Regions from separate parts of the Homo sapiens genome. Here all the other regions are linked to region 3. The links come from fine-mapping of genetic effects on gene expression. A gene starts in region 3. Each other region holds a variant in brackets. All regions are shown on one strand. Distances are from middle to middle.

Evidence for each region. PIP is the estimated chance that this variant, and not a neighbour inherited with it, causes the effect.
Region 1: its variant is the best candidate, but not a certain one, in a credible set for the expression of LPXN in whole blood (TOPMed, PIP 0.72).
Region 2: its variant is the best candidate, but not a certain one, in a credible set for the expression of LPXN in whole blood (INTERVAL, PIP 0.85).
Region 4: its variant is the best candidate, but not a certain one, in a credible set for the expression of LPXN in whole blood (TOPMed, PIP 0.69).

Annotation. Positions count from the first base shown.
Region 1 is chr11:58,356,811-58,364,920 of GRCh38, reverse strand. OR5B17 (olfactory receptor family 5 subfamily B member 17) reads left to right here and starts at 5,852. Exons shown (of 1, transcript NM_001005489.2): 1 at 5,852-6,797. The coding sequence starts at 5,852. The coding sequence ends at 6,796. The variant T/G (reference allele first, on the strand shown) is at 4,547.
Region 2 is chr11:58,447,708-58,455,817 of GRCh38, reverse strand. No RefSeq gene overlaps it. Among named protein-coding and RNA genes, the nearest start is that of OR5B12, 9.5 kb to the right of the region's middle. The variant C/T (reference allele first, on the strand shown) is at 3,886.
Region 3 is chr11:58,571,961-58,580,070 of GRCh38, reverse strand. LPXN (leupaxin) reads left to right here and starts at 4,215. Exons shown (of 9, transcript NM_004811.3): 1 at 4,215-4,311. The coding sequence starts at 4,299. It overlaps ZFP91 (ZFP91 zinc finger protein, atypical E3 ubiquitin ligase), which reads right to left and starts at 1,008. Exons shown (of 11, transcript NM_053023.5): 1 at 449-1,008. The coding sequence starts at 789. ZFP91-CNTF (ZFP91-CNTF readthrough (NMD candidate)) reads right to left here and starts at 957. Exons shown (of 13, transcript NR_024091.1): 1 at 449-957. RefSeq lists enhancers at 1-630, 1,375-1,604, 1,324-2,016, 1,635-2,154, 2,175-2,254 and 3 more and a silencer at 535-954.
Region 4 is chr11:58,532,520-58,540,629 of GRCh38, reverse strand. All of the region lies in intron 7 of LPXN (leupaxin), which reads left to right. Among named protein-coding and RNA genes, the nearest start is that of OR5B21, 28 kb to the right of the region's middle. The variant T/C (reference allele first, on the strand shown) is at 4,848.

The sequences.
Region 1 (8,110 bases), 220 kb after region 3:
TAATTTATAATCAGTGTATTCATATTTATTTTTTTAAAAAGGCTGCTTGGATTTAAATTGTGATTGCAAGGAATCTTCAGAGCAGTCAACATAAAGTCTCTCAATTCATGAATATAATATTTCTATACACTAATTTCAATTATTAAAACTTCATTCATCAGGATTCTATATTTTTCTGCACTTTTAAGACATGTATCCTAAATACGCTCAAAGAGCTAAATGAAATCTTGAACAAGAAACTAAAGGAAGCTAGGAAAAAGATATTTCAAGAAATAGTGAACTATTAATAAAGAAACAGAAATTATAGAAAGTAATTAGAAATTCTGGAACAGAAACCAAAAATAGATAAGATAGACTATGGAAAATAGTTTAGTGTTTTTTTGTTTGTTTTTGTTAGTTTGTTTGTTTGTTTTTTATACATAACTGCCATAAGATCCAGCAAATGAACTCCTGGGCATTTTCCCAGAAACATGATTATTTATGTTCACAAAAATAACTGTGTGTAAATGTTTATAGCACCTTTATTTATAGTAGTCAAAAATTAGAAACCATGCTGGAAACCATTCAGATATCCTTCCTTGGGTGAAAGGTTAACAACTTGTAGTACATCCATCACATTGAATACTACTCTCAATAAAAAGGAATAAACTGTTGATACATTCAAAAACCTGGATGAATATTGGGAAGAATATGCTGAGTAAAAACAGCCAGTCTCAAACGGTCACAAAAAATCCAAGGCATAATTCCACATACATAGAACATTTGTGAAATGACAAAATTATAAAATGGAGGACAGATTTTTTTCCAGTATTTAAGAAGGAATGGGGTCATGGCTATAAAAGGTCAGCATGAGGGATCCTTGTGGTGATGGAAATGTTATATATCTTGAATATATTAACTCGTCATTTACATTAGGTATATCTCCTAATGCTATCCCTACCCCCACCCCCACAACAGGCCCCTATGCAGCCAAAAGACACATCAAAAAATGCTCATCATCACTGGCCATCAGAGAAATGCAAATCAAAACCACAATGAGATACCATCTCACACAAGTTAGAATGGCGATCATTTAAAAAGTCAGGAAACAACAGGTGCTGGAGAGGATGTGGAGAAATAGGAACACTTTTACACAGTTGGTGGGACTGTAAACTAGTTCAACTATTGTGGAAGTCAGTGTGGTGATTTCTCAGGGATCTAGAACTAGAAATAGCATTTGACCCAGCCATCCCATTACTGGGTATATATGCACAGGAGAATAAATCATGCTGCTATAAAGACACATGCACACGTATGTTTATTGCGGCACTATTCACAATAGCAAAGACTTGGAACCAACCCAAATGTCCATCAATGATAGACTGGATTAAGAAAATGTGGCACATATACACCATGGAATAATTTAGTATTCCATAAAATGCAGCCATAAAAAATGATGAGTTCATGTCCTTTGCAGGGACATGGATGAAGCTGGAAACCATCATTCTCAGCAAACTATCACAAGGACAAAAATCCAAACACTGCATGTTCTCACTCATAGGTGGGAATTGAACAATGAGAACACTTGGACACAGGAAGGGGAATAAAGGGTTTCTTTAGTGAGTAGGTTATGCCTGAAGAAAACTGGGCCTTAGTCTATCAGGAACCACTGGAAAACTATCAAATATGTCTCAAAGTTATACCACCTGAAAAAGTAGGAATTGGGTTCTTATCACTCTACTTCTATCTATCATGTACTGATTGCTGATACCACAGAAATTAAAATGTTCCACACCACAGAAATTAAAATGTTCCACACATGGGCTGAACCTACTTTTACAGCAAATTCTAAGCCCTAAGTCTGCAAAACGCAAATTTCACATTCTTTATTTCACAATAAGTATTGGCCTGCACATGGACAACACAAGTGAAGAGGGGATGGATAGAACACTAACGATATTTGCTAGGAAATAGTAATTTGAGATAGAAAAGAAGGCCATCCACCTATTTATCTGAATCAAATTTTTGAATTGAATATAAATATTAAGGAATATTCTAATCTTCATTTCTCTGACACCTATGTTATATTTATCAGTTGATTGTAAACACAAGAAAGTAAAACAGGGATTATGTTTATCAATCTACAAATTCAGTTGCTATCAGATATAACAAGTTATAAAATAGAAAGTAGAAAAATGAATAAAAAGAAAACAAAATAAATATTTGACATGTATTACACATCAATAATACAGTAAATATAAATAGATCAACACACTGCTCATGTATGTAATAACAACTTAATAAAATTGGGGGAGAAAAAAGGCATGACAGCAATTACCACAAATAAACATGTATGTGACTCAACACAAACTCTATCACTGGATGCTGTGTAATTGCCTCTTCCCTAGATAAGTGAGATAAAGGAAAGCTATTGCCCTCATAGGGACGCTGTTTCCCAGAGAGTTCCATACATGTACACTTTTCTCCTGGCTGCCAGTCAGTAAGATCTGAAATCATAGTATGGCTCCACATGACGTTATTTAAAATGGATAAGACTCTAACCAGAGCCACTTTAATCTTCATTCATCCAAATGAAAGCTAATACTTTTAGTGCACAATCTGGTCTTTCCTGAAACTGAGAATATTGCAGTGATTCTCCAACCAAAGGCAGAAAAAAACTTCCCAAGATAAAAATTGTATTGGTTCATGATGAAGGGATAACAACTTACTAAGGTCTGTATAGGTCCACTGTCATTTTCTCTGTATAGATACAATTGTGTGAAGTTGTGGGAGAAAACATTTTCTCATTTCTATTCCACAAATGAGGAAACTGAGCTCAGCAGAAAATAAATAAGTTTTTCAAGTTCACAGAAAAACCCATGGTACATGCAAAACCTGAACTCAGACTTTCACAACACAGAAAAATGATACAACATAGAAAAATGACATGTTTGAGTTAGCACTCCATGTTAATAATTCTTTCTCCACCTCTTTATGCCTCAAAAAACTTGAACATTTCTGAAAAGTACATGATAGAGAATTTCTCCAATGTTATTTAGGCATTCTCCCAAGAATGAATTTCTGATTTCAGACTCACAATTGAGAACTGCCTTTTTCTTCTTTTCAAAGAGCAAGGTAAGCCTCTATATTCAATATATACTTTTGGTGAAATATGTAATTGATGCAAAAGCAGTGTGGCAGCTACATCTTGTATGAGTTTTTGAGCTCAGATCTACTTGTTTGAACATTTTTTCTAAAACATGGAAGTGGGTCTAGCATTCATTGTTTAAAAAAAAAAAAGAAAACTTAACCAGCAGATACAGTGATATTTATGAAATGCCGTGCTGCTCTCCCTAAGATGGTAGTAAAACCCTAGGCTGGATGATGCTCTGATTGAGTAGGTGGTAAATGTATCTGGTTTATTATGTGTTGGTTTGTCGCTGAAGGAATAGCTCCCCCAAACAGGGTGCAACAACTCTTCAATAGACTTCAGAAAGATTATTATGACACTACCAAGATCCCTATTCCATTTTTACTATCATTTCCTCACAATCTCACTTTTTCATTACTTGCTAATCTAGAAAATCTGACATTGCAGTGATTAAAGGCACAGAAATTGGAATAGGTTAGACATGGGTTTGAATCTTGAATTTATCTTACTAAGTGTAGAATATGAGGAAGGTACAAAACTCCTCTAATCTCCCAATATTTAACAGCAAATGGGGTTATATATCTGTCTGTATAAATACTCTCTCTCTCTCTCTCTCCATGCTCTGATATCTATGTCTGTCAATCTATCATCTCTCTATCATTCATGAAACAAACTGGTTCATAAGTACAAAGGCTAAGCTGCTAGTAACTTTAGAAGATCTGATTTATAAAATCAATGTATTCCAGATATGTGAACTTGAGAATTTAATACTTTCTCTGCTCCTCTAGTGATTCATATATACAATTAGGAAGTTGGCTATGTGATCTGTGAAGATGTCTCAACCATTTCTGATTCTAGAGATAATTTACCTATGATATATAATATTCATACTCATTATGGCAGCCTTAATAATGTTCCCCAAAGGTGGTCATATCTTAACTTCTGAAACCCATAAACATGTGGCCTTATGTGATTTTTTTACAAACTTCACAGTGATTAAATTAACATGTTGAGATGGTAGGATTATCCTAGATTATCCAGGTAGGTACAGTGAGAACCTTTCAGTTGTCATAGAACATAGTAAATTTTTAAAGAAAAACAATAAAAATTGTAGCTTATATTATTATGTGGGTAGTTTTTTGGCAAACAAATAATTTGAATTCTAGAAGTGTCAACTGATGTGTACTGGGGGCAGGAGAAAAATGATAGACAATCAATAGTGGTTATGAGGAAATGAATGTCCTTCTGACAGATTCAAATTCAAATAAAAAGATTGTGCATAAACACATCTGCAGCCTACAGTCAGCCCCCAAGACTACGAACCTCCAACCCTCAATATCTGATATCCTGCTAAGTGTTGAGAGTAATGACAGGAAGAATGTGTCTAAGATAAAAGGGGATTGTTTCAACACAAGG[T/G]AAAATGTAGTTTGAAAGGGAGAAATTAAACACAACAGGACTTGAAGATCCCTGGGTTCTCATGCTAGATGGCTGACACAGTCATTCACCTGGCAAAGAATGGATAGAGTGAGAAATGCTGAAGGAAACAAAAGACTGGACATAGTGTGTAAGAAAATACAGATCAGACAGAGTAAAACTGCCAACTTGAAAACCCACCCACACCTTCAGCCCTGTGTGTCACCTCTATGTGTTCTACACCAACATATGCACCACCATTCCATCCTAATAATAATATTATAGCTAGCACTCATCAGGACTGTGCTGAGTGCCCACATTTTGCCAACAGCTGAGCATTATCTCATTTAACTCTCAAAATAATCTCTTGACATAAGTCCTAATATCATCTTCATTTGACTAATGGATAAAATGAGATTCAAGGAAGTTAGATTAAGACCAGTGTCTCCCAAGTAGTAAATGTTAGGGCTTATGAGTTAATACAAATCTACCTCTTCTTAGAGTCCTAGATTTTATACCCAATGCTATATCTTCTCTGCAGAATTGGCTTTGTTGGTTGCACATGACATTAATGCTGCATTTATTCCACTTCATCTAGTATGCATTTATTTGTGCATTGCTCTACTATGCAACTTCATATGTTATGCTTGGTATAATAGATAGAATGAGTACATATAAATAGATTAACATTTAAAATAATTCAAATTCATTAAAAGAATTTTAATTCTTTTAATTTAGGTTGGGAACCACCCTGATTGTGTCTAAAGCTTGGTTCTATCTACTGGTGCTTGTGTAATCTTGAATAAATTATTCAAACTCTTTTTTTCTACCAAGATACTTCATGTATAAATTGGCAATAATAACTAATTAAATAATAGGATTAATGAGAGAATTCTATGAGGATGTACATATAAAGCATCTGGCATGAGACAACTATAAGTGTGTTTAAGATGTTAGATTCAAAAAACATATTATTTGGGAGATAGATTCACTTCAGGCATGTGACATTGGACAACTCATTATTCCCTTCCTATGACTCCATTTACTCAGACACAAAATTAAGAAGCTGGAAAGATGATCCACGAAGACCCTTTTTCTTCAAAAGTCTATTACTGTATAGATAAGTTATCCACTAAATTGTGTTTTCATATCCATAATTTTGATCTAGGAAATATAGAAAACAAATCATTGCTATAATAAAATAACACATACATTTCAGTTTTGTGCAACTCTGTTTTGTTCATCACAGGGTTTTTCTTTTTTATCTCTCCTTGCTACAGAGTATCTTGTGATTCTAAAATAACATCCATGGAGAATAATACAGAGGTGAGTGAATTCATCCTGCTTGGTCTAACCAATGCCCCAGAACTACAGGTTCCCCTCTTTATCATGTTTACCCTCATCTACCTCATCACTCTGACTGGGAACCTGGGGATGATCATATTAATCCTGCTGGACTCTCATCTCCACACTCCCATGTACTTTTTTCTCAGTAACCTGTCTCTTGCAGGCATTGGTTACTCCTCAGCTGTCACTCCAAAGGTTTTAACTGGGTTGCTTATAGAAGACAAAGCCATCTCCTACAGTGCCTGTGCTGCTCAGATGTTCTTTTGTGCAGTCTTTGCCACTGTGGAAAATTACCTCTTGTCCTCAATGGCCTATGACCGCTACGCAGCAGTGTGTAACCCCCTACATTATACCACCACCATGACAACACGTGTGTGTGCTTGTCTGGCTATAGGCTGTTATGTCATTGGTTTTCTGAATGCTTCTATCCAAATTGGAGATACATTTCGCCTCTCTTTCTGCATGTCCAATGTGATTCATCACTTTTTCTGTGACAAACCAGCAGTCATTACTCTGACCTGCTCTGAGAAACACATTAGTGAGTTGATTCTTGTTCTTATATCAAGTTTTAATGTCTTTTTTGCACTTCTTGTTACCTTGATTTCCTATCTGTTCATATTGATCACCATTCTTAAGAGGCACACAGGTAAGGGATACCAGAAGCCTTTATCTACCTGTGGTTCTCACCTCATTGCCATTTTCTTATTTTATATAACTGTCATCATCATGTACATACGACCAAGTTCCAGTCATTCCATGGACACAGACAAAATTGCATCTGTGTTCTACACTATGATCATCCCCATGCTCAGTCCTATAGTCTATACCCTGAGGAACAAAGACGTGAAGAATGCATTCATGAAGGTTGTTGAGAAGGCAAAATATTCTCTAGATTCAGTCTTTTAATGATGCAAAATCATCACAATGTTATTTTATCTCACTTAGATCTACTTTATACAATAACTCAAATGTTAAAATGCTATATGGTATATAGAATGTAAAATTTCATCTAATATTATTTTTGTCTTTAGTTGAGAAACAGTTCTAAGTATCCACGAGTTAGAAAAATACGATGACAATTTCTCATGGAGTTTAATGAAATATGTGTTGTCTCTTGTCATATTTTAGCCAACTATGAGTCATTACTGTTTCTTAATAAACTAATATTTCAGGCATTAATAATTTTAGGTATTTGGTACAGCTTGTTCATATGACAATTTATAAATGGTAAATAACTATATTAGAATAATAATATATTAGAATTAAAAGGCAGAGATAATTCTTTTTTTTTTAAACTTAGCCTATGACTATCAAAGACATCTTGAACTGAGAGAAAGAAATAAAAGAATCTCTGTTTGCTATTTAAAATATAAAATCATGACCTGGCCCAGTGGCTCATGCCTGTAATCCCAGCACTTTGAGAGGCCAAGGCAGGTGGATCACTTGAGGTCAGGAGTTCAAAACCAGGCGAGACAACGTGATGAAACCCTGTCTCAACGAAAAATACAAAAAAATTAGCCAGACATGGTGGTGGATGCCTGTAGTTCCAGCTACTTGGGAGGCTGAGGCAGGAGAATCGCTTGAACCCAGGAGGCGGAGGTTGCAGTGAGCTGAGATCGTGCCGTTGGACTCCAGCCTGGGTGACAGAGCGAGACTCCGTCTCAAAAAACAGAAGATCATAAGTAATCCCCTAAAAATTATTAGAACTAATAAATCAATTCAGTAAAGTGTCAGGGATACAATAACAACATACCAGAATAAGTGGTATTTCTATATACTAGCAATAGGTAATCTAAAAATAAAATGAAGAAAATTCCATTTACAGAACCATCAAAAATAAGATGCACAGTAAAAACGATTACAAAAAGAACTGCAATGCTTATATTCTTAAAACTATAAAACCTAGTTGAAAGATGTTCAATAAAATCTAAATAAAGGAAAACATTACTTGATTATGAACCAACATTGTACAGCTGGCCACATTCCCTAATTGATATTCAGATTAAATACACTTCCTCTCAAATCCCAGCTGGCTTATTTGCAGAAATTGGTAAACTTATCCTAAAATTCATAAGGAAATTTAAAAGCCCAGAATAATATTTTAAAAAGAGAACAGAGTTGGAGTCCTCTCACACCACAATTTCAAAAGTTACAACAAAAACTGTAGTAATCAAGATAGTATGGTAATGGCATAAGAATAGACATATAGACTAATGGAAT
Region 2 (8,110 bases), 120 kb after region 3:
GTGCTGGGGTTATAGGTGTGAACCATTGTGTCTGACTTGATTTTTGTTATTTCCTTATTTCTACTAGCTTTGTATTTACTTTCATTTTTTTTTCTAGTTTACTAAAGTGTATACTTAGGTTGTTTATTTCATATATTTCTCTTTTCTTCATGGGTGGCATTTATCACTAAAACTTTCCTCTTATAGCGGTTTTTCATCCATCCTATATGTTTGGTATGTTGTGTGTTCATTTTTGTTTGTGTCAAGATATTTTAAAATTTCCCTTGGATTTCATGTTTGACCCATTGGTTGTTCAAGCATGTGTTCTTGATTTTTACATACTTGTCAGTTTTCTGAAATTTCTCCTATTGTTTTCTAATTACCATTGCAGTTGGAAAAGACACTTGATAAAACTGCAATCCTCTTAAATTTTTAAGACTCGTTTTTTGGCTCAATATATAATCTGTTATAGAGAATGTTCCACATATGCTGCTGTGGGATGAAATGCTCTGTAGGTCTGCAGGGATGAAATTACCTTTTAGGTCTGTTAGTTTTATTCACTCTAAACCCTAATTCAATCCAATGTTTTCTTATTGATTTTATTCCTGAATGATCTATGCATTGTTGAAAGTGAGGTATTGAAGTCCGTTGTATTATCAATTGCTGTATGTTTTTCCCTAAACACCTATTATTTGCTTCACGTATTACGGTGTTCTGATGTTGGGTGCATGTATGTTTATAATTGTAGTAGCCTCTTGATGGATTGTTCCCTTTATCATTTTATAATAACCTTCTTCATTCCTTTTTGTAGTTTTTGACTTAAAGTCTATTTTGTGTGATATAAGTATAGCTACTTCTTCTCTCTTATGGTTTCCATTTGCATGGAAAATCTTTTTTCATCCCTTCGCTCTTAATTTATATATGTCCTTAAAGCTTAAGTGAGTTTCTGTTGGCAGCATTTAGTTGGGTCTTTTTGTTTTTTATCCATTTAGTAATTCTTTGATAGAAGAACTTATTTACATTTAAAATGGTTATTAATAAGTAAGAACTTACTATTGTCATTTTGCTAATTATGTTCTGGCTGTTTTGTAGATCCCTTTATTCCTCCATTGCCATTTTTCTTTACAATTTGTTGATTTTCTGTAGTGGTATGCTTTGATTTCTTTTCATGTTTTGTATATTCATGATAGATGTTTGATTTTGATTACCATGAGGCTTACTGAAAATACTTTATAGTTATATCAGTTTATTGTTTTAATTTTATTATTATTATACTTTAAGTTTTAGGGTACATGTGCACAATGTGCAGGTTAGTTACATATGTATACATGTGCCATGCTGGTGTGCTGCACCCATTAACTCGTCATTTAGCATTAGGTATATCTCCTAATGCTATCCCTCCCCCCTCCCCCCACCCCACAACAGTCCCCAAAACAAGCAATGGGGAAATGATTCCCTATTTAATAAATGGTGCTGGGAAAACTGGCTAGCCATATGTAGAAAGCCAAAACTGGATCCCTTCCTTACACCTTATACAAAAATTAATTCAAGATGGATTCAAGACTTAAACGTTAGACCTAAAACCATAAAAACCCTAGAAGAAAACCTAGGCATTACCATTCAAGACATAGACATGGGCAAGGACTTCATGTCTAAAACACCAAAAGCAATGGCAACAAAAGCCAAAATTGATAAATGGGATCTAATTAAACTAAAGAGCTTCTGCACAGCAAAAGAAACTACCATCAGAGTGAACAGGCAACCTACAAAATGGGAGAAAATTTTCACAACCTACTCATCTGACAAAGGGCTAATATCCAGAATCTACAATGAACTCAAACAAATTTACAAGAAAAAACCAACAACCCCATCAAAAAGTGGGCAAAGGATATGAACAGACACTTCTCAAAAGAAGACATTTATGCAGCCAGATAACACGTGAAAAAATGCTCACCATCACTGGCCATCAGAGAAATGCAAATCAAAACCACAATGAGATACCATCTCACACCATTTAGAATGGCAATCATTAAAAAGTCAGGAAACAACAGGTGCTGGAGAGGATGTGGAGAAATAGGAACACTTTTACACTGTTGGTGGGACTGTAAACTAGTTCAACCATTGTGGAAGTCAGTGTGGCAATTCCTCAGGGATCTAGAACTTGAAATACCATTTGACCCAGCCATCCCATTACTGGGTATATACCCGAAGGACTATAAATCATGCTGCTATAAAGACACATGCACACGTATGTTTATTGCGGCACTATTCACAATAGCAAAGACTTGGAACCAACCCAAATGTCCAACAATGATATCAGTTTATTTTAAGCAGATAACAACTTAACTTTGATTGCATATAAAAATACTACACTTTTGGCCGGGCGCGGTGGCTCACGCCTGTAATCCCAGCACTTTGGGAGGCCGAGGCGGGTGGATCATGAGGTCAGGAGATCGAGACCATCCTGGCTAACAAGGTGAAACCCCGTCTCTACTAAAAATACAAAAAATTAGCCGGGCGCGGTGGCGGGCGCCTGTAGTCCCAGCTACTCGGGAGGCTGAGGCAGGAGAATGGCGTGAACCCGGGAAGCGGAGCTTGCAGTGAGCCGAGATTGCGCCACTGCAGTCCGCAGTCCGGCCTGGGTGACAGAGCGAGACTCCGTCTCAAAAAAAAAAAAAAAAAAAAAAAAAAATACTACACTTTTATCCCCCCCCCTCCACATTTTAGGTTTATGTCATAATTTATTTCTTTTTATATTGTGTATCTTTTTATAAATTATCGTAGCTATAGTTATTGATATAGTTTTGTGTCTTAACTTTTATACTAGAGATATAATTGATGTCCACATCATCATTACAATATGATGTTGTACTTACTTTTACCATGAGTTTTTACTTTCATATGCTTTTATGCTACTAATTAGGATCCTTTTATTTCAGCTTGAAGAACTCCCTTTATCATTTTATGTAAGACAGGTCTAGTATTTATGAACTCCCTTAATTTTTGTTTGTTTGGGAAAGTTATCTCCTTCATTTCTAAAGGACAACTTTGCCAGGCAGAATATTCTTCATTGGCAGGTTTTTGTTCTTTCACTACTTTGAATATATTATCTGCTCTCTCCTAGCCTGCAGTTTATTCTGATAAATACACTGATAGCTTTTGGGGGGGTTCCCTTCCATGTGAGTATATATATTTTTTTCTTTGCTGCTTTCAAAGTTCTCTTTTCTTTATTTTTTGACTATTTGCTTATAGTATGTCTTCTTGTGGTTTTCTTTGGGTTGAATCTAATTGAAGACCATTGGCTTTTCTATGCTTGGATATTTATATCTTTCCCTAGATTTGATAAGTTTTCTGCCATTTTAACTTTAGGTTTCTGTTCCCTTTCCCTTTCTTCTTATTCATTAAGGTTTTTAATGCTAAAGTTAACTATCTTGATGCTGTCTCATAAATTTCATAGGCTTGTGTATTTATTTATTTATTTGTTTTCCATAAGTTATAGGGGTACAGGTGGCATTTGGTTACCATGAGTAAGTTCTTTAGTGGTGATTTGTGAGATTTTGGTGCACCCATCAACGAGCAGTATACGCTGCACCGTATTTTTAGCCTTTTATCCCTTGCTTCTCTCCCACTCTTCCCCACAAGTCCCCAAAGTTGATTGTATCATTCTTTTTTTTTTCATCTTAATGCAAATGTTTAATTTCTGTTTTATTTACTTTTGGTTTACATTTTCATATATATTTATAGTTTAAATAGGTGCAATCACATTACACTGTACTTTTTTTAGTTAACATCATACGGTAAACATTTGAAGCATTCTTGCATGTTTCTCCCTAGTCTTTATAATTACTGTTTTCCTAGAGTCGTGATGGTGCATCAAGTTGACAGATCATACTTAATCAACCCCCT[C/T]TTACTGGGTGTTTATATTACTACCACTGCTTAGGCAGTGAAGCCTGTAAAAGAGGTGCTTTTCATCCATCTTCATAAATGTGGCTATGGAGTGTAGCAGCTCGAGAGCCTGCAAGGGATGTTGTGGATTCTGGTTCCCACATCAAGGAGATGCAAGCTGGCCTTCATTATAAGGGCTGCATGACTGAGGTTGGGTACTACAACCCTCGAGTCTTCCTCTCTGTTCTCTCTTTTAGGTCCTTCTCCATGAAAAAACTACAAAGCAAATCAAATCCACTGTGCATAGGATGTAAAACCTATGTTTTCCAGAAGAAATCTAATGTGTTTGAATGAAAAATTCTCTAGAGCATCAATTTGATTTAACAAAATGTATTAAGGGGCTGCTATATGGTAAAATTGCCGTGGTTAACCTCAAAAGCTGTGACTCAGAGAGACCTGGAGTTATATTTCTGCTCTGTTCTATAATGATTGAATAGCCACAGCAAGTTATTTCATCTTTCTCAGACACAGTTTCCTCAGTTGAAAAAATGAGAAGCCCATGATTTAATACAAGTAAAATATTTAGCATGTCTATGGCACACAGTTAGTGTAGAATAAAGCATAGCTATTATTATTATTGTTGTCTTTATTATGTGTCTTCCAGGCTAAGCACCTTAGGCAAGTTATATTACTCACAGAAGCCTCTATTTCCATATCTATAAAACGGAACTCATACTAGTATCTACCTTTTTTTTTTAATATATACTTTAAGTTTTAGGGTACATGTGCACAATGTACAGGTTTGTTACATATGTATACATGTGCCATGTTGGTGTGCTGCACCCATTAACTCGTCATTTAACATTAGGTAAATCTCCTAATGCTATCCCTCCCCACTCCCCCCACCCCACAACAGGCCCCGGTGTGTGATGTTCCCCTGACTGTGTCCAAGCATTCTTATTGTTCAATTCCCACCTATGAGTGAGAACATGCAGTGTTTGGTTTTTTGTCCTTGTGATCGTTTGCTGAGAATGATGGTTTCCAGCTTCATCCATGTCCCTACAAAGGACATGAACTCATCATTTTTTATGGCTGCATAGTATTCCGTGGTGTATATGTGCCACATTTTCTTAATCCAATCTATCATTGTTGGACATTTGGGTTGGTTCCAAGTCTTTGCTATTGTGAATAGTGCCACAATAAACATACGTATGCATGTGTCTTTATAGCAGCATGTTTTATAAGCCTTTGGGTATATACCCAGTAATGGGATGGCTTCTTACACCTTTATGTGCTCATAGCTTAGCTCCCATATATCAGTGAGAACATACAATGTTTGGTTTTCCATTCCTGAGTTACTTCACTTAGAATAATAGTCTCCAATCTCATCCAAGTCTCTGCAAATGCTTTTCATGCATTCCTTTTTATGGTTTGGTAGTATTCCATTGCATATATATATGTATATACTACAGTTTCTTTTTCTTTTTTTTTCAGAGGGTATTCCACTCTTGTTGCCCAGGCTGGAGTGTAATGGTGCAATATCAGTTCACTGCAACCTCTGCCTCCCAGCTTTAAGTGATTCTCTGGCCTCAGCCTCCTGAGTAGCTGGGATTACAGGCAGCACATCTGGCTAATTTTTGCATTTTTAGTAAAGATGGGGTTTCACCATGTTGGCCAGGCTTGTTTTGAACTCCTGACCTTAGGTGATCCTCCCTTCTCAGCCTCCCAAAGTGCTGGGATTATACTACAGTTACTTCATCCACTTGTTGATTGGTGTACAGAAGGGGTCTTGCTATGTTGCCCAATCTGGTCTCAAACTCAGTCACATTTGGGTTGGTTTCACAATTTTGCAATTGTGAATTGTGCTGTAATAAACGTGCGTGTGCAAGTATCTTTTTTGAATGATGACTCCTTTTCCTCTGGGTAGATACCCAGTAGTGGGATTGCTAAATCAAATGGTAATTCTACTTTTAGTTCTTTAAGGAATCTCCACACAGTTTTCCATAGTGGCTGTACTAGTTTACATTCACACCAGCAGTGTAGAAGTGTTCCCTGATCACCAAACCACATCCACATTAACACCTACTGTTTCTTTATTTTTGATTATTGCCATTCTCGCAGGAGTAAGGTGGAGTCGCATTGTGGTTTTGATTTGCATTTCTCTGATTATTATTGATGTTGAGCATGTTTTCATCTGTTGGCCATTTGTATATCTATTTTTGAGAATTGTCTATTTACTTCCTTAGCCCGCTTTTTCATGGGATTGTTTGTTTTTTTCTTACTGATTTGTTTGAATTTGTTGTAGATTCTAGATGTTAGTCGTTTGTCAGATGTATAGATTGTGAAGATTTTCTCCCGCTCTGTGGGTTGTCTGTTTACTCTGCTTACTATTCCTTTTGCCAGGCAAAAGCTCTTTAATTAGTTCCCAGCTATTTATCTTTGTTTTTACTGCATTCGCTTTTGGGTTCTTGGCCATGAAATCCTTGCCTAAGCCAATGTCCAGGAGGGTTTTTCCAATGTTATCTTCTAGAATTTTTATAGTTTCAGGTCTTAGATTTAAATTCTTAATCCATCTTGGGCTGATTTTTGTATAAGGTGGTCAATGTGCTTATTTTTATGCCAGTACCATGCTGTTTTGGTGACTATGGTCTTACAGTATAGTTTGAAATCAGGTAATGTGATGTCTCCAGATTTGTTCTTTTTGCTTAGTCTTGCTTTGGTTATGCAGGCTCTTTTTTGGTTCCATATGAATTTTAGAATTGCTTTTCCTAATTCTGTGAAGAATGGTGGTGGTATTTTATTGGAAATTGCATTGATTTTAGATTGCTTTTGGCAGTATGATCATTTTCACAATATGATTCTTCCTATCCATGAGTGTGGGATGTGTTTTCATTTGTTTGTGTTGTCTATAATTTCCTTCGGCAGTGATTTGTAGTTTTCCTTGTAGAGGTCTTTCACCTCCTTGGTTAGGTATATTCCTAAGTAAAAAGTTTCAGGTATTAGGCTTAAGTCTTTAATCCATCTTGAGTTGAATTTTGTATAAGGTGAGAGATGAGGATCCAGTTTCATTCTCATACATGTGGCTAGCCAGTTATCCCAACACCACTTGTTGAAAAGAGTGTCCTTTCCCCACTTTATGTTTTTGTTTGCTTTGTTGAAAATTAGTTGGCTGTAAGTATTTGGGTTTATTTCTGGGTTCTCTATTCTGTTCCATTGGTCTATGTGCCTGTTTTTATACCAGTACCATGCTGTTTTTTGACTATGGCCTTATAGTATAGTTTGAAATCAGGTATGCCTCCAGATTTGTTCTTTTTGCTTAGTCTTGCTTTGGTTATGCAGGCACTGTTTTGGATCCATATGAATTTTAGAATTTTTTTTTTCTAATTCTGTGAAGAATGATGGTGGTATTTTTATGGGATTGCATTGAATTTGTAGATTTTTTTGGCAGAATGGTCATTTTCACAATATTGATTCTTTTGGTGTCCATTTGCATGAAATGCCTTTTTCCACCCCTTTACTTTAAGTTTATGTGAGTTATGTAAGTTTATGTGAGTCCTTATGTGTTAGCTTGGTCTCCTGAAGGCAGCAGATAGTTGATCAGGGAGTTCTTATCCATTCTGTGGTTCTGTTCAATGTTAGTATTGAAATGTGAGGTATCATTGCATTAATCGTGCTCTTTGTTGCCTGTGTGCTTTGTTTTTTGTTTTTGCTTTTTCACTTGTATTTTTGTTTTATAGGTTCTGTGTGATTTATGCTATTTTCATGTGTTTCCAGGATTTGTTTCAAGATTTAGATCTCCTTTTGGCGGTTCTTTTAGTGGTGGTTTGGTAATAGTGAATTCTCTCATCATTTGTTTGAAAAAGACTGTATCTTTCCTTCATATATGATGCTTAGTTTCACTGGATACAAAATTCTTGGCTGATAATTGTGTTTGAGGAGGCTGAAGACAGGGCCCCAATCCCTTCTAGCTTGTAGGGTTTCTGCTGAGAAATTTGCTGTTAATCTGATGGGTTTTCCTTTATACGTTACCTGATGTTTCTGTCTCACAGCTCTTCAGATTCTTTCCTTCATCTTAACTTTGGATAACCTGATGACAATGTACCTAGCTGATGATCTTTTTGAGATGAATTTCCCAGGTGTTCTCTGTGTTTCTTGTATTTGGATGTCTAGGTCTCTAGCAAGGCCAGGGAATTTTTCCTCAATTATTCCCCCAAATATGTTTTCCAAGCTTTTAGAATTCTCTTCC
Region 3 (8,110 bases):
CTGGCTCTTGAGCTAACGCGAAGGCGGGGGGGAATCATTTTTGAAGGCTATGATCGGGCTGTGTATTCCCTAAAGGGCATGTGATGTAATACTGGAGAGCCGCCTAAAGGAAAGGGATAGGGTGACAAAGGGGGTGCGGATGCCAGAAAGAGGGATGAGCCTGCGGGTGTCAGGGAGGAGGTGGATCACTAGCGAGTGCAGGGGTGTATCAAAAGATGATTTCGGGGAGTGGGGAAACGGCCCGACAAGCGAAGGTACAGGAGCGAGATGAGGGTGGCGCAGAGAGGAGGCACGAAGGCTCCCGGGGAAACGGTGTGACATCTGGCGTGCGGAGCCGGCAGGGGGCAGACCAGGCAGGATGTCACGTGGAGTAGGCGCTACGGGAGCCGAGAGGGTTGCGTACGGACAGAGGGGGGTCTTTCCCACCGCCTGAAAGACTGTTACTCACAGGAGTCGCGGACTCTTCTTGCCCTGAACTGGAGACGGGGACTTCGCGGCCTGGGGCTGCTGCCCGGGGACGTCGGGAGGCCTGGCGCTGGGGCTGCTCCTCCGCCGGCGGGGATACTCGGCCTTCCTCCGGCGGGACACAGCTGCGGCGGCGGCGGCCGCAGCGGCCCGGCCTCGGTCCCGACCTCCCCTCAGCACGCGGCTGCTAGTGGTCCCTGCAGGCGCCGCCGCGACCGCCTCAGGGGGCCGTTGTTGGGGCTCCTCCGGAGCCGCCTTGGCCGCCTCTCCCCCTTCCTGGTCCTGCTGCTCCGGGGGTCTCGGCTCTTCCGTCTCCCCCGGCATCGGGGCTTGTCCGTCCCCCACCCCCTAGTCCTAGGCGGCGGAGGCGGAGGCGGCGGCCTCGGCGCTGCTCCCCCCGCCCCCTCGCCTCCCGAAGCCTGCGGCTCACTCTCACCCTGCGCTCCTCTTTCCCCCCTCCCCTCCGCCCGGCTCCGAGGGCGCCCCCCCCACCCCCTGCCACTCAAGGTCCGCTACCGCTGGCGGCGCGCGCGCGCGCGCCACAGACGCTCAGCGGGCCAATCGGAAAAGAGGACAAGCCTCCTCACCCCGCCCCTCGCAGTCTTACACGCAGCGGCGCCCCAGGTTCCCTCCCCCACCCCTTCCTTCAGCCAATCAGGAAACGGCTAAAAGGGGAGCGCGCGAGGTTTCCTTCCCCGCGCACCCGTTCTCACCGTTAAACGGCTGTGTCTCGCGACAATCCCAAAGTGACCTTTTTCCCCCCTCCAGACTTCAACGCGCGCTAGGGGCAGTGCGAGGGGCAGGTCTCGCGAGGGAGGCGGGTGAGAAGAAATCGCACCTCTTTCCCCGCCTCACGCAAACCCTAGACTGGCTGCGCGCGCACCTGCCTCCCTGAGGAGCCACTGATACCACAAGGGCTCTTTCTATTCTTCTTTAGGCCGCAGAAGTAGCCTGGGCGTTCTTCCGCCTCCACCCTACCCCACTTTCCTGTCTTTGGCCTTTCTGTCCCCAGCGCCGCCAGATCTTGCGCGGAGAAGGGGGTAGTATTTTGAGCTGTCGCTTCTCCTTTAAGAAAAAAAGCCCCGTCGGTTGCCGGATGAAAGTCTCTGAAAAAATGGCGGCGGCAAAACGGAGGCGGGGTTGTGGGGGCAACGAGGGCCCGCCTCTTGGCGCATGCGCACCGTTAACTTAACCAAGGGCATTCTGGGAGATGAAGTCTTATTTCGCCTAGGCTTTAGGAAAAATAGATGGGAAACCAGAGGTGGAGAGGATGCCGGGAGGTTCTAACTGAGTCACGACGGGAAAGGTAGTTTACTTTCCGCAGTCTAGAGTTTACCTTTTTTTCGGGAGGCAGTGTTTCCGGGTTAGGTCGCGACGCGTGCCGTACATCCGGGCTCAAGCGTCGAGCCAATTGCTGGTCTGATGGGAGGGTTTTTCCTACTTTTTCTTACTTTTTATCTGGGCGTTGGCGTACCTTTCTCGGGGTGTCTGCGTAACTGCCCAGACTTGCCTTGGTTTGGTCAGATGACACCTCCTCTGGGACTGGCTAGCCAGCGTTCATGTCTACATTATTGATCTCGTCTTCCGGTGTGTGAGTCACTCACCTGTGAGCTCCTAGAGGTCAGCGACTAAATCTGGTTCCATGGGGTCCTTGGGCCCTCGGAGCCCTAGCACAAGGCCCACTACTCAGTTGGCTCTTAATCAAATCTGTGAAACGAATTATAAAGTTGCTTTTCTACTAGACCTTGTTGGGACACCAAGGAGCCGGCGTCGGTTGCTTAACTTGGATGCGGTGCCTGACCTAGAGGGAGGCGAAAGGGTTGTGAGCGTGACATGACTGGTGACCTACACCGAGAAGCTGAAGGGTCTCTTAAGCTCTGCGGCCGGAAGCCATCTGCTTCTGCGGTTTATACAATAGCAACTTTATCAGAGGTTACTTTTCTGCACGCTAGCGTATGACATTAATTTGTCTTCCTGATTCATCAAAGGGAATTTCCGTTGCAGTTGGTGATGCAGTGGGCCTCTCCCATTTCTTTTTTCTTTTCATCCATTACAATCAAGGAACGATTTGCAAGAACATCCTTTACCCCTGGAAAATAAGGCATCCAGGGCTAAAAGTCCCAAAAGAAAGAAGCTGGAAACAAGATCTGGGGATCCAATTTTAAATTTCACATTAATCATTCAGTTAAACTGTAGACAAGTGCTGAAGTACATTTTTCCTTCCAGTACTTTGACTCAGATACCACTTCATATTAGACAAATGTTTTATATTCTCTACTGAGTATTTTCCATTTTCATAGGGCTAATGTCATTTTCAGTTGTAATAATCGATTGGCATAGTGTCAATGGAAATTTTTTAAGATTGAGTTTGTAGTGAGCAGACTTTTGGAAGGAACAGTGCTGACATCCAATGGATGCTCAAAGTAATACAGAGGAGGAATCTCCTTTCAAAAAAAAATGTACAGACAGTGGAATGGAGAATGAATTATTCCCTAAAAAAAAAAAGCCACTGTGGGCTGGATGTGGTAGCTCACCCCCGGAATCCCAGCGCTTTTGGATGCCAAAGTGGGAGGATCCCTTGAGCCCAGAACTTCCAGACCAGCCTGGGCAACATAGGGAGACCACCCTCTACATAAAAAATAAAAATAAAGCTTTTAAGCTAACCTGGTGGCGTGATGGGATGCACCTCTGGTCCCAGCTACTCCAGAAGCTGAGAAGGGCAAATCGCTTGAGTTCAGGAGTTCGAGTTGGAGGTTACACTGAACTATGATAGTACCTTTGCACGCCAGCCTGGGTGACAGAGAGCTTGTCTTAAAAAAAGTAAAGAAGGCTACGGTGTTGTAGAGGAAAGATCCCAGACTTTGCAATTATAGTAAGTAGCAAAGCTACCAATTAATTATCTTAGCAAGTTGCTATTACATGAACCTATTTCACCATTGGTAAAAAGGGGGAAAAAATCTATTTCACAGGGCCATAATTATAGTTCCTTACGTATTGCTTTTTTATAGTAGGCCTTTTGTAAATGTTTAATTCAAGGTGAATAAATCACAGTGGTAAAAAAGGTGAAGAGTTAACCTCAGTGTTACTTTCCAAAGAAATTGCTATAAGGCAGTGTATCTAGGCAGGGATTATGCTTAATTGAGATGCACACAGTTTAACATCTGGTGTCAAACCTGGCTTCCTTCTTTGTGACCACCCTATAGATGTTTGCTTTTGGGACCACTGAGTAAACCAGGCCCTGAGAATCCAAGCATGAATCCACTTCTGCCCTACTTTTAAGGATTTACGTTCCATGCAGGAAAGCAGATAACCATAATTTCTGAATAAATAAGACAACAAAATGAAATGGATGCTGGTCAACTCTGATGCAAATTTTAAGAAGGAGACTATGCCTCTGTGTCTCCCAGCTTCACAGAAAAAAAAAAAAGAAAAAAGAAAGATGCTCAGAGTGGGGTACCTACACTTGGAAAAAACGCAAGTATAAGTCTGCCATTCCCATGAATCCAAGATGAATCCTGGCACAGAGTAGGTCCTCAAATTTTGCAAAATTAATTTTGAATCTTTATCACCCTGGCCAATGCACTGCCATAATGCAAATCTTACTATCTACCTTTCTATGTCAGTCACATTTTTAAAACTGTGTAACCTATGAAAAAAAAAAAAAAGCTCACCAAATCAAAAGAGAGGAAGTGCTAAGCAAATACAGGAACCAAAAAGGTTTATAGAGGCTGCCTTATGCTGTCTCATCCAGTTCCTTTGCGGTCCTCTTCTTCAGCACATGCCAAAGCTGTTCCTCACGGCCTGTGAGACAAGAGCATCTTGGATGTAGGACAATGGAAGAGTTAGGTGAGTGAGGAGCCTGAGGAGAAACTCTGAGGGAGTGAAGACTTGGCTGCCATCTCCTTGTGTGGTGGGGTATACTTCTGGCTAGACTGAGGGTAGTAATGGAAGATTTTATTTTCACTTCTTTCCTGTCCTCAGCCCTGCCAAGAGTGAAGCATGAGGAACTATGATTGTTTTGGGGAACTATGGGTTCACTGTTTGCAGTGGCAAAATAGATGGAGAGTTTGGTGCTAACCGCGGAATAAACTCTTGGCAAATACTTTTGGACTGGATTGTTACTGCAGTTGTTGTCTTGTTATGGGCGTTTTGCCCTTTGGAGGTCACTGGAGATCAAGGGTGGCCACATAGCGAGACAATGCAGAGATATGATTTGAGGAGGAAAAGAAAGAGCAAAAAGGGAATTGGGGTGTTATGAGGAAGAAAAGACGGACTAGAAGTATAAGAATGAGGGATCTGTAGAGGTTGGAAAAAGGCCAGAGTGGTTTCATTTGTTCCATGTTTTAGTATTAAATCAAGAAGGCATAGCACTCTAACTCTAGTGATTTTGTTGCTAAGCTTTTTATTCAGAAGAATTCTGAAGGAAGAGATTACTAGGGCCTGAAAATATGACACCTCCTTCCACTCTAAGACAATTAAAACCAGCAGTGGAACTATTAACCATATTAACCAGAGAAATCCTGGATTTCAAACCTTTGGAGTAATGTAAGGTTTGTCATTCTTGGGACTCATTCCATAGCCTTTGCCAACATCTGTTGCCAGCATCTTAACTAACACTGAGTCACTAAACTATACCCAATTTCCAAACTGTATTAATTCCACAGTGTCCTGGTTTGGGGTGTGTTTGGGGATAGGGTATGTCAAAAGTGCAAAAAACAACAACAAAAAATATCTTGCACATTGTTACATTGTCTTAAAAAAAATGGCGTGTGATTTCAAAGCTGGAGAAACAGAGGAAAAGTAAAGGGCAAATTACCAGGAGGCAAGAGATGTTAATGAAGAGAAAAAGGTAGTGTTTAATAAATATCAAACTGCTTTGGAGGTAAAGTCTATTTTGATATTGGGCCAGACTCTTTTTTGGACTTGGGGTAGAATTCTATTTCTTATCCTACGTGAGTGCTGGGAGAATGTGAATTTCTGCTTGAGTTCTAGTAGTGCTAGGGCCTTTTTTCTTTTTCTCTTTCTTTTTTTTGGGGGGGATGGAGGGGACACCGAAAGGCTTTCATGGCAAATAATTCAAAAGGAAACTAATACTTATTTAGTAAATCAAGCAAAAACTAGACATTTTTACATATGTTAATCATTTTAGTGTCTGCAGCAACCCTCTGAAATAGGTGTTATCCACTTCTTTTTCAGATGAGAAAACTAAGAAAAACAAAATAACTTTTTCAATGTCACTGTCGGGAACACCTGACACCAAAACTAAGCAACAAGGTGCTCTCCTATTTTAGAAGTTTATTGGTTCTGGTGTCTGTCCAATGAAGTAACCCAGATTTAACAGAAACTTATATTGTTTTGCATCTCCTGAGCAGGCTAAATGTTAGGTAAATCTTGTCTGGAAATACAGAAAGTACCAAGTAGCCTGGAAGCTAATATTTGTGCAGATTATCCAGTTGGCTACGTCTCCACAGGCTGTTGATGGCTACACTTCAACAGTTTCTTCAAATTGTCATCAGCCCAGTAACTACCCTTGAGACTTGGTGTGGATCTTTCTTCCTGCTGGCAGAGAAATGGCATCGAGGACAGGTTGGCTCAAGTGAGCAAATATTTCCTGTCTGCAGTGGTGCCTCAGAGGCTAGCAGCTTGTATACACCCAGAAGGTTTTACCTAAACCCTCATTACGTAGGCATTAGGCATGATAGATAAAGAGGAACCAGGAGCAGATTCTGCCTCCGAATGAAATCCATGCAACCCTCAGAGACTCCCAAGAGACCTCACTTTACTCCTTTCATGTTAATATTGATATTATTTCATCTCCACAGTAAAAGACTACAGAGAAGAATTATGGAGTCTTCAGTCTAGTCCCCACTTCCCCCGCCCCCACTCTCCAGGAATCCCATATTTGTCATACTGAAATTAGTCATCTTCAAATTACAAAATCTGGCAAAAGGCATAATAACCTCACAGTGTTGGTGATATGCACACTCATATGAAACAGGAAGAGAAAAGCCTATAACTCATGACCCAGAAAGAAGGGTTTTGATAACTTTGGTTAGCTGGTGCTTCTGAGGGCAACTTCCTACTCTTTGTGGTATGGTTTCTTCTCTCTTATAATCTTTATTGTAAATGGCTTTTTATTTTGAGCTCAGGAGGATCTTTGGCTTCTAGTTAGAGCAAAGCTTAGAAAATAGAAAAGAAAGGGGCTCTAGCATAATTGAAAGATGTAGAATAAAAATTCAAAATTCTCAAATTTGGTGTGGGGTCTGGCTAATAAAAATCTGAGGCAAAAAGTTTTCTTTCTTTTTCTACCTTAGTTTTCTTTTCTTTTTCTTTCTTTTCTTTTCTTTTTTTTTTTTTTTGAGACGGAGTTTTGCTCTTGTTGCCCAGGCTGGAGTGCAATGGCACGGTCTCGGCTCACCGCAACCTCTGCTTCCCAGGTTCAAGCGTTTCGCCTGCCTCAGCCTTCCTGAGTAGCTGGGATTGCAGACATGTGCCGCCATGCCTGGCTAATTTTGTGTTTTTAGTAGAGACGGGTTTTCTCCATGTTGGTCAGGCTGGTCTCGAACTCCCAACCTCAGGCGATCCGCCCGCCTCGGCCTCTCAAAGTGCTGGGATTTACAGGCATGAGCCACCATGCCCGGCCTATTTGTCCTTCTTTTTAAAAAACTTCTATTATAAAGAAATTTAAGTATGCAAAAGTAGAGAAAATAGTTTAATGAATTCTGATATACCCATCAACCAGTTGAAACAATCAGTTCTTCATCAGTCTTACTTCATATATATGCCCACCCATTCCTTTCACCCCTGTAATTATGTTAAAACAATTTCAGATGTCATTTTATCTGTAACTATTTTAACACTGACCTCTAAAATAAATATATATTTATACATATAACTGTAATGCCATTGCCATAACAACAGCCTTAATATTAATTCCTTAATATTGTAAAATACCATTATCACACCTAAAAACTTAACAGAATTAATTAATATTATTAAATATCATTATCACACCTAAAATAAACAGTACTTACTTGATATTATTTAATATCCAGTCAGTGTTCAATAGTCTTGATTGTTTCATTTTTACAGTAGATTTAATGATCCAAATAAAGTTCATACACTGAAATTTATTATAAGTCTCTCAACTTTTTAATGCCATAGGGTCCCACTCATCTCTTTTTTCCCATTACAGTTATTCATTTGCCCGAGAGTTTAGTTCAGTTTGCTTATCTCTAAAATGGTACATAAAAGTCAACATTTTTGATAAATGGATGATTATGAAAGATCTGTATATTTCATTTGTTAAAAAAAAAAGGATTAGATCTCTTCTAACGCCATTAAGAAATATTCATTCCTCCAAAATCTAAAATAAATGAAAAATCTGTTTTTTTTTTAATGACCTGTGAAGTTTATTTTCCTTATCTGAGAACTTTAGATGTAGGCAGGTCCTTAGAAATAATGTAATTATGTGTTTAAAGTTTGAAAGCTAAAATCTGTGGTAAGAAGTCCGCTAGAGATCCACTAATGCATTATTGAGCCATAATTTGAAAAATACTGTTCTAATCAAATTGCCTTGTTATGTAGATGAGGAAACTGCATCAGAGAAGGATGTGACATGCTCAAGGTAACCCAGAGAATATAT
Region 4 (8,110 bases), 39 kb after region 3:
ACCTAGCTTCAGTAAGTATAAGTGTTTTGCCAAATGGATTCCTCTATTAACCTTCACCCATCCATCCACATTTTTTCTTGCTGGAATATTAAGAAGCAAGTTTAGAAGTCATGTAATCTCATCATTAAATACTTCGGCATGCATCACTTTTAGCTGAGAAGGTCTTTTTAAAAACTACCTTTATGCTTAACAAATTAAGAATTTCTTATTATCATTTACAATTCCTATTCAGATTTCTAAGAAAATATCACAGGCTTGGTTTGCTTGAATCAGGATCTCAGCAAGGTCAGTGCATTGCATTTTGCTGTTTTGTCTCTCAAATTTAAAAAATTCTATTATTAGTCCTCTCTTTGCTGCTTTTTTATACTATTTATTTGTTAATGAATCCAGAACCTATATCCCATAAAATATCCCATATTCTTTATTTGACTGGCTGCTTTCTCATGATACTGTTTTTTGCTTTACTCCTGCCCCCATTTCCTATATTTTCCTTAAACTATTAGTTTAGACCTAGAGATGACTAGGTTTAGGTTCAGTTTTCGGGGGTCTGGATGACAAGAATAGGTTTCAGGTGGTGGGTGCAGTATACTTCTTGTTGAATCACATCAAGAGGTGTATAATGACTGGTTGACCACTTTTATTGATACTAACATTGACCACTAAATTTAAGCAGTGTCATCCCGATCCCTCTATTTTAAAGTTCCCCATTAATGACAATTACCTAAATCCAATGGAATAGGTAGTAAAATGCTGAGTTTTCTATTATTCCTTCCATATTTATTAGCTGAGTTCTACAAAAACTTTCTATCATCAGTTATTGGGTTATCTTGGAATATATCTCATACAGGAAAGGTGAGATAAGTGTTTGACACTTTCTATTAATAAGAGTAATGAATTAATTATAAGGGTAATGAATGGGTTCATTAACAATATCCAGTGGAGACTAATAAATTTTTATTTTTAAAAAATCATTATGAACTCATGGAGTTATATATACTTGGTATAATTTGATCTATTGAATTAGTATTTTTTAATGCTCAAATTTTTTTATCTGAGGTCAGAGGTAGCCCCTTCAATTTGGTTACTGTATCTTTCTGATATGATCCCAGTAATCTTCCTATTTCCTTGGCACAGCAAGATATATCAGGCCTAACTTGTCAACTCTGCCACATACTTGGAATCATCCATTTCTCCAAAAAGACTGCTTCATTGAGGATATTTAAAAATTAGCAGTGTTCATTATTTCTGGGATGTCATTTCTTCTAGGTTTTTCAGTGGACAGAGCTTCAGATCTACTTTTTAAGGTTTTTAAATTTTATAGAGACAGGATCTCATGCTGTCTCCCAGGCTAGAGTTCAGAGGTGCTATCATAGCTTGCTACAGCCTTGAACTCCTGGACTCAAGCGATTCTCCCACATCAGCCTTCTGAGTAGCTGGCACTACAGATGTGTACCACCAGGTCTGGCTAATTTTTTAAAATTTTTTGTAGAGAGTGGGTCTCACTACATTGCCCAGGGCTTGTCTCGAACTCCAGGCTTCAACCAGTCCTCCCGCCTCAGCCTCTCAAAGTTCTGGGATTACAGGCAGGAGCCACTGCGCCCTGATAGAATCTGTCATTGTTGTTGTTTTTTTTAAAGAAAAGTAAGTCATGAGTTCATACTAATATATCTGATATAGTATAATGATACAGTTTTTTGTTTGATTTGTTTGATTATTTGTGTCTTTTTTAATGCTGGAAATCTTGCTTTCCAAAGGCATTAATATAATTATTTGCTTTATTATGTAATCTACCTGTAATAAGTTCAAAAAATATATAAATATTGTAAATGAACAAATTATTTTTATTGTGTATATATATTGTATTATTTTATTGTATATTTTAAGGTACACAACATGATATTTTGATATACACAGTGAAATATTTATTACAGTTAGGCAAATTAACATATCCGTCCTCACTCACAGTAACCCTTTTCATGTGTATATGGTAAGAGCATCAGAATCTACTCACAGCAAATTTCCAGTATATATAAAAACAGTTTAAGACACTTCTCAAAAGAAGACATTTATGCAGCCAAAAAACACATGAAAAAATGCTCACCATCACTGGCCATCAGAGAAATGCAAATCAAAACCACAATGAGATACCATCTCACACCAGTTAGAATGGCAATCATTAAAAAGTCAGGAAACAACAGGTGCTGGAGAGGATGTGGAGAAATAGGAACACTTTTACACTGTTGGTGGGACTGTAAACTAGTTCAACCATTGTGGAAGTCAGTGTGGCGATTCCTCAGGGATCTAGAACTAGAAATACCATTTGGCCCAGCCACCCCATTACTGGGTATATACCCAAAGGACTATAAATCATGCTGCTATAAAGACACATGCACACGTATGTTTATGGCGGCACTATTCACAATAGCAAAGACTTGGAACCAACCCAAATGTCCATCAGTGATAGACTGGATTAAGAAAATGTGGCACATATACACCATGGAATACTGTGCAGCCATAAAAAATGATGAGTTCATGTCCTTTGTAGGGACATGGATGAAATTGGAAATCATCATTCTCAGTAAACTATCGCAAGGACAAAAAACCAAACGCCACATGTTCTCACTCATAGGTGGGAATTGAACAGTGAGAACACATGGACACAGGAAGAGGAACATCACACTCTGGGGACTGTTGTGGGGTGGGGGGAGGGGGGAGGGATAGCTTTAGGAGATATACCTAATGCTAAATGACGAGTTAATGGGTGCAGCACACCAGCATGGCACATGTATACATATGTAACTAACGTGCACATTGTGCACATGTACCCTAAAACTTAAAGTATAATAATAATAAAATAAAATAAAATATTTCTTTGTAGCTTGTTTTGTCTTTAGATTGCATCATTAGGACTGTACACTCTGAACACTATCATTTAAAGTTACTTGAATGAACTATTTCGTTTTTATTATTATTATACTTTAAGTTCTGGTGTACATGTGCAGAATGTGCAGGTTTGTTACATAGGTATACACGTGCCATGGTGGTTTGCTGCACCCATCAACCCATCATCTACATTAGGTATTTCTCCTAATGCTATCCCTCCCCTAGTCCCCTGCCTCCATCAGGCCCCAGTGTGTGATGTTCCCCTCCCTGTGGCCATGTGTTCTCATTGTTCAACTCCCACTTATGAGTGAGAACATGCGGTGTTTGGTTTTCTGTTCCTGTGTTAGTTTGCTGAGAATGATGGTTTCCAGCTTCATCCATGTCCCTGCAAAGGACATGAACTCATTCTTTTTTATGGCTGTATTTTATTCCATGGTGTATATGTGCCACATTTTCTTTATCCAGACTATCATTGATGGGCATTTGGGTTGGTTCCAAGTCTTTGCTTTTGTGAATAGTACTGCAATAAGCATATGTGTGCATGTGTCTTTATGGTAGAATGATTTATAATGCTTTGGGTATATACCCAGTAATGGGATTGCTGAGTCAAATGGTATTCCTGGTTCTAGATCCTTGAGGAATCACCACATAGTCTTCCACAATGGTTGAACTAATTTACACTCCCACCAACAGTGTAAAAGCATTCCTATTTCTCCATATCCTCTCCAGCATCTGTTGTTTCCTGACTTTTTAATGATCGCCTTTCTAACTGGCGTGAGATGGTATCTCATTATGGTTTTGATTTGCATTTCTCTAATGACCAGTGATGATGAGCTTTTTTTTTTCATATGTTTATTGGCTACATAAATGTCTTCTTTTGAGAAGTGTGTGTTCATATCCTTCAGTCACTTTTTGATGGGGTTGTTTTTTTTTCTTGTAAATTTGTTTAAGTTCTTTGTAGATTCTAGATATTAGCCCTTTGTCAGATGGATAGATTGCAAAAATTTTCTCCAATTTTGTAGATTGCCTGTTCACTCTGATGATAGTTTATTTTGCTGTGCAGAAGCTCTTTAATTTAATTAGATCCCATTTGTCTATTTTGGCTTTTGTAGCCATTGCTTTTGGTGTTTTAGTCATGAAGTCTTTGTCTATGCCTGTGTCCTGAATGGTATTGCCTAGGTTTTCTTCTAGGAATTTTATGGTTTTAGGTCTTACGTTTAAATCTTTAATCCATGTTGAGTTAATTTTTGTATAAGGTGTAAGGAAGGGGTCCAGTTTCAGTTTTCTGCATATGGCTAGCCAGTTTTCCCAACACCATTTATTAAATAGGGAATCCTTTCCCTGTTGCTTGTTTTTGTCAAGTTTGTCAAAGATCAGATGGTTGTAGATGTGTGGTGTTATTTCTGAGGCCTTTGTTCTGTCCATTGATCTATATATCTGTTTTGGTACCAGTACCATGCTGTTTTTGTTACTGTAGCCTTGTAGTATAGTTTGAAGTCAGGTAGCATGATGCCTCCAGCTTTGTTCTTTTTGCTTAGGATTGTCTTGGCTATGCAGGCTCTATTTTGGTTCCATATGAAATTTAAAGTAGTTTTTTCTAATTCTATGAAGAAAGTCAATGGTAGCTTGATGGGGATAGCATTGAATGCATAAATTACTTTGGGCAGTATGGCCATTTTCACGATATTGGTTCTTCCTATCCAGAAGCATGGAATATTTTTCCATTTGATTGTGTCCTGTTTTATTTCCTTGAACAGTGGTTTGTAGTTCTCCTTGAATAGGTCCTTCACATCCCTTGTAAGTTGTATTCCAAGGTATTTAATTCTGTATAGCAATTGTGAATGAGTTTCACTCATGATTTCGCTGTCTATTATTGGCGTATAGGAATGCTTGTGATTTTTGCGCATTGATTTTGTGTCCTGAGACTTTGCTGAAGTTGCTTATCAGCTTTAGGAGATTTTGGG[T/C]TGAGATGATGGGGTTTTCTAAATATACAATCATGTCATCTGCAAACAGAGACAATTTGACTTCCTCTTTTCCTATGTGAGTACCCTTTATTTCTTTCTGTTGCCTGATTGCCCTAGCGAGAACTTCCAACACTATGTTGAATATGAGTGGTGAGAGACGGCATCCCTGTCTTGTGCCAGTTTTCAAAGGGAATGCTTCCAGGTTTTGCCCATTCAATATGATATTGGCTGTGGGTTTGTCATAGATAGCTCTTATTATTTTGAGATACATTCCATCAATACCTAGTTTATTAAGAGATTTTATCATGAAGGGGTGTTAAATTTTATCAAAGGCCTTTTCTGTATCTATTGAGATAATCATGGTTTTTGTCATTGTTTCTGTTTATGAGATGGATTATGTTTATTGATTTGTGTATGTTGAACCAGCCTTGCGTCCCAGGTATGAAGCTGACTTGATCGTGGCGGATAAGCTTTTTGATATGCTGCTGGATTCAGTTTGCCAATATTTTATCGAGGATTTTCACATTGATGTTCATCAGGGATATTGGCCTGAAGTTTTCTTTTTTTGTTGTGTCTCTGCCGTGTTTTGGTATTAGCATGATGCTGGCCTCATAAAAATGAGTTAGGGAGGATTCCCCCTTTTTCTATTGTTTGGAATAATTTCAGAGGCAATGGTATCAGCTCCTTTTTGTACCTCTGGTAGAATTCTGCTGTGAATCCACCTGGTCCCGGACTTTTTTTTGGTCGGTAGGCTATTAATTACTGCCTCAATTTCAGAACTTGTTGTTGGTCTATCCAGGGATCTGACTTCTTCCTGGTCTAGACTTGGGAGAGTGTAGTGTCCAGGAATTTATCCATTTCTTCTAGATTTTCTAGTTTATTTGTATAGAGGTGTTTACAGTATTCTCTGATTGTAGTTTGTATTTCTGTGGGATCAGTAGTGATAACCCCTTTATCATTTTTTTGTGTCTATTTGATTCTTCTCTCTTTTTTTCTTTATTAGTGTGGCTAGTAGTCTATCTATTTTGTTGATCATTTCAAAAAACCACCTCCGGGATTCATTGATTGTTTGAAGGGTTTTTCATTCTCTATCTCCTTCAGTTCTGCTCTGATCTTAGTTATTTCTTGTCTCCTGATAGCTTTTTAATTTGTTTGCTCTTGCTTCTCTAGTTCTTTTAATGTGATTTTAGGGTGTCGATTTTAGATCTTTCCTGCTTTCTCTTGTGGGCATTTAGTGCTATAAATTTCCCTCTACACACTGCTTTAAATGTGTCCCAGAGATTCTGGTACTTTGTGTCTTTGTTTTCATTGGCTTCAAATAACTTCTTTCTTTCTGCCTTAATTTTTTTATTTACCCAGTAGTCGTTCAGGAGCAGGTTTTCAGTTTCCATGTAGTTGTGCGGTTTTGAGAGAGTTTCTTACTCCTGAGTTCTAATTTGATTGCACTGTGGTCTGAGAGACTGTTTGCTATGATTTCTGTTCTTTTGCATTTGCTGAGGCGTGTTTTACTTACAATTACATAGTCGATTTTAGAATAAATATGATGTGGTGCTGACAAGAATGTATATTCTGTTGATTTCGGGTGGAGAGTTGTATAGATGTCTATCAGGTCTGCTTGGCCAAGAGCTGAGTTCAAGTCCTGAATATCCTTGTTAATTTTCTGTCTCATTGATCTGTCTAATATTGACAGTGGGGTGTTAAAGTCTCCCACTATTATTGTGTGGAAGTCTAAGAGTCTTTGTAGGTCTCTAAGAACTTGCTTTATGAATCTGGGTGCTCCTGTATTGGGTGCATATATAATTAGGATAGTTAGTTCTTCCTGTTGCATTAATCCCTTTACCATTATGTAATGCCCATCTTTGTCTCTTTTGATCTTTGTTGGTTTAAAGTCTTTTTTATCAGAGACTAGAATTGCAACCCCTGCTTTTTTTTTTCTTTCCGTTTACTTGGTAAATATTCCTTCATCCCTTTATTTTGAGCCTATGTGTGTCTTTGCATGTGAGATGGGTCTCCTGAATACAGCACACCAATGAGTCTTGCCTCTTTATCCAATTTGCCAGTCTGTGTGTCTTAATTGGGACATTTAGTCCATTTACATTTAAGGTTAATCTTGTTATGTGTGAATTTGATCTGGTAATTATGATGCTAGCTGGTTATTTTGAAGAACTGTTATGAACAGTTTCTTCATAGCATCTATGGTCTTTACAATTTGGTATGTTTTTGCAGTGACTGGTACCAGTTATTCCTTTCTGTGTTTAGTGCTTCCTTCAGGAGCTCTTGTAAGGCAGGCCTGGTGGTAGTAAAGTCTCTCAGCATTTGCTTGTCTGTAAATAATTTTATTTCTCTTTTGTTTACGAAGCTTAGTTTGGCTGGATATGAAATTCTGGGTTGAAAATGCTTTTAAGAATGTTGAATATTGGCCCCCACTCTCTTCTGGCTTGTACAGTTTCTGCCAAGAGATCCGCTGTTAGTCTGATGGGCTTCCCTTTGTGGGTTACCCAACCTTTCTCTTTGGCTGCACTTAACATTTTTTCCTTCATTTTGTGTCCGAAATTGGTGGGTTCTTGGTCTCACTGACTTCAAGAATGAAGCCGCGGACCCTTGCGGTGAGTGTTACAGTTCTTAAAGATGGTGTGTCCGGAGTTTGTTCCTTCTGATGTTCAGACATGTTCGGAGTTTCTTCTTTCTGATGGGTTTGTGGTTTCGCTGGCTTCAGGAGTGAAGCTGCAGACCTTCACGGTGAGTGTTACAGCTCTTAAGGCGGTGCGTCTGGAGTTGCTCATTCCTCCCATCTGGAGTTGTTCATTCCTCCTGGTGGATTCGTGGTCTCGCTGGCCTCAGGAGTGAAGCTGCAGACCTTCGCGGTGAGTGTTACAGCTCATAAAGGCAGTGCGGACCCAAAGAGTGAGCAGCAGCAAGATTTATTGCAAAGAGTGAAAGAACAAAACTTCTACAGTGTGGAAGGGGACCCAAGTGGGTTGCCACTGCTGGCTCGGGCAGCCTGCTTTTATTCCCTTATCTGGCCCCACCCACATCTTGCTAATTGGTGCATTTTACAGAGAGCTGATTGGTCCATTTTACAGAGAGCTGTTTGGTCTGTCTTGACAGGGTGCTGACTGGTGCATTTACAATCCCTGAGCTAGACACAGAGTGCTGATTGGTGCATTTACAATCCTCTAGCTAGACACAAAAGTTCTCCAAGTCCCCACTAGATTAGCTAGACACAGAGCACTGATTGGTGCATTTACAAACCTTTAGCTAGA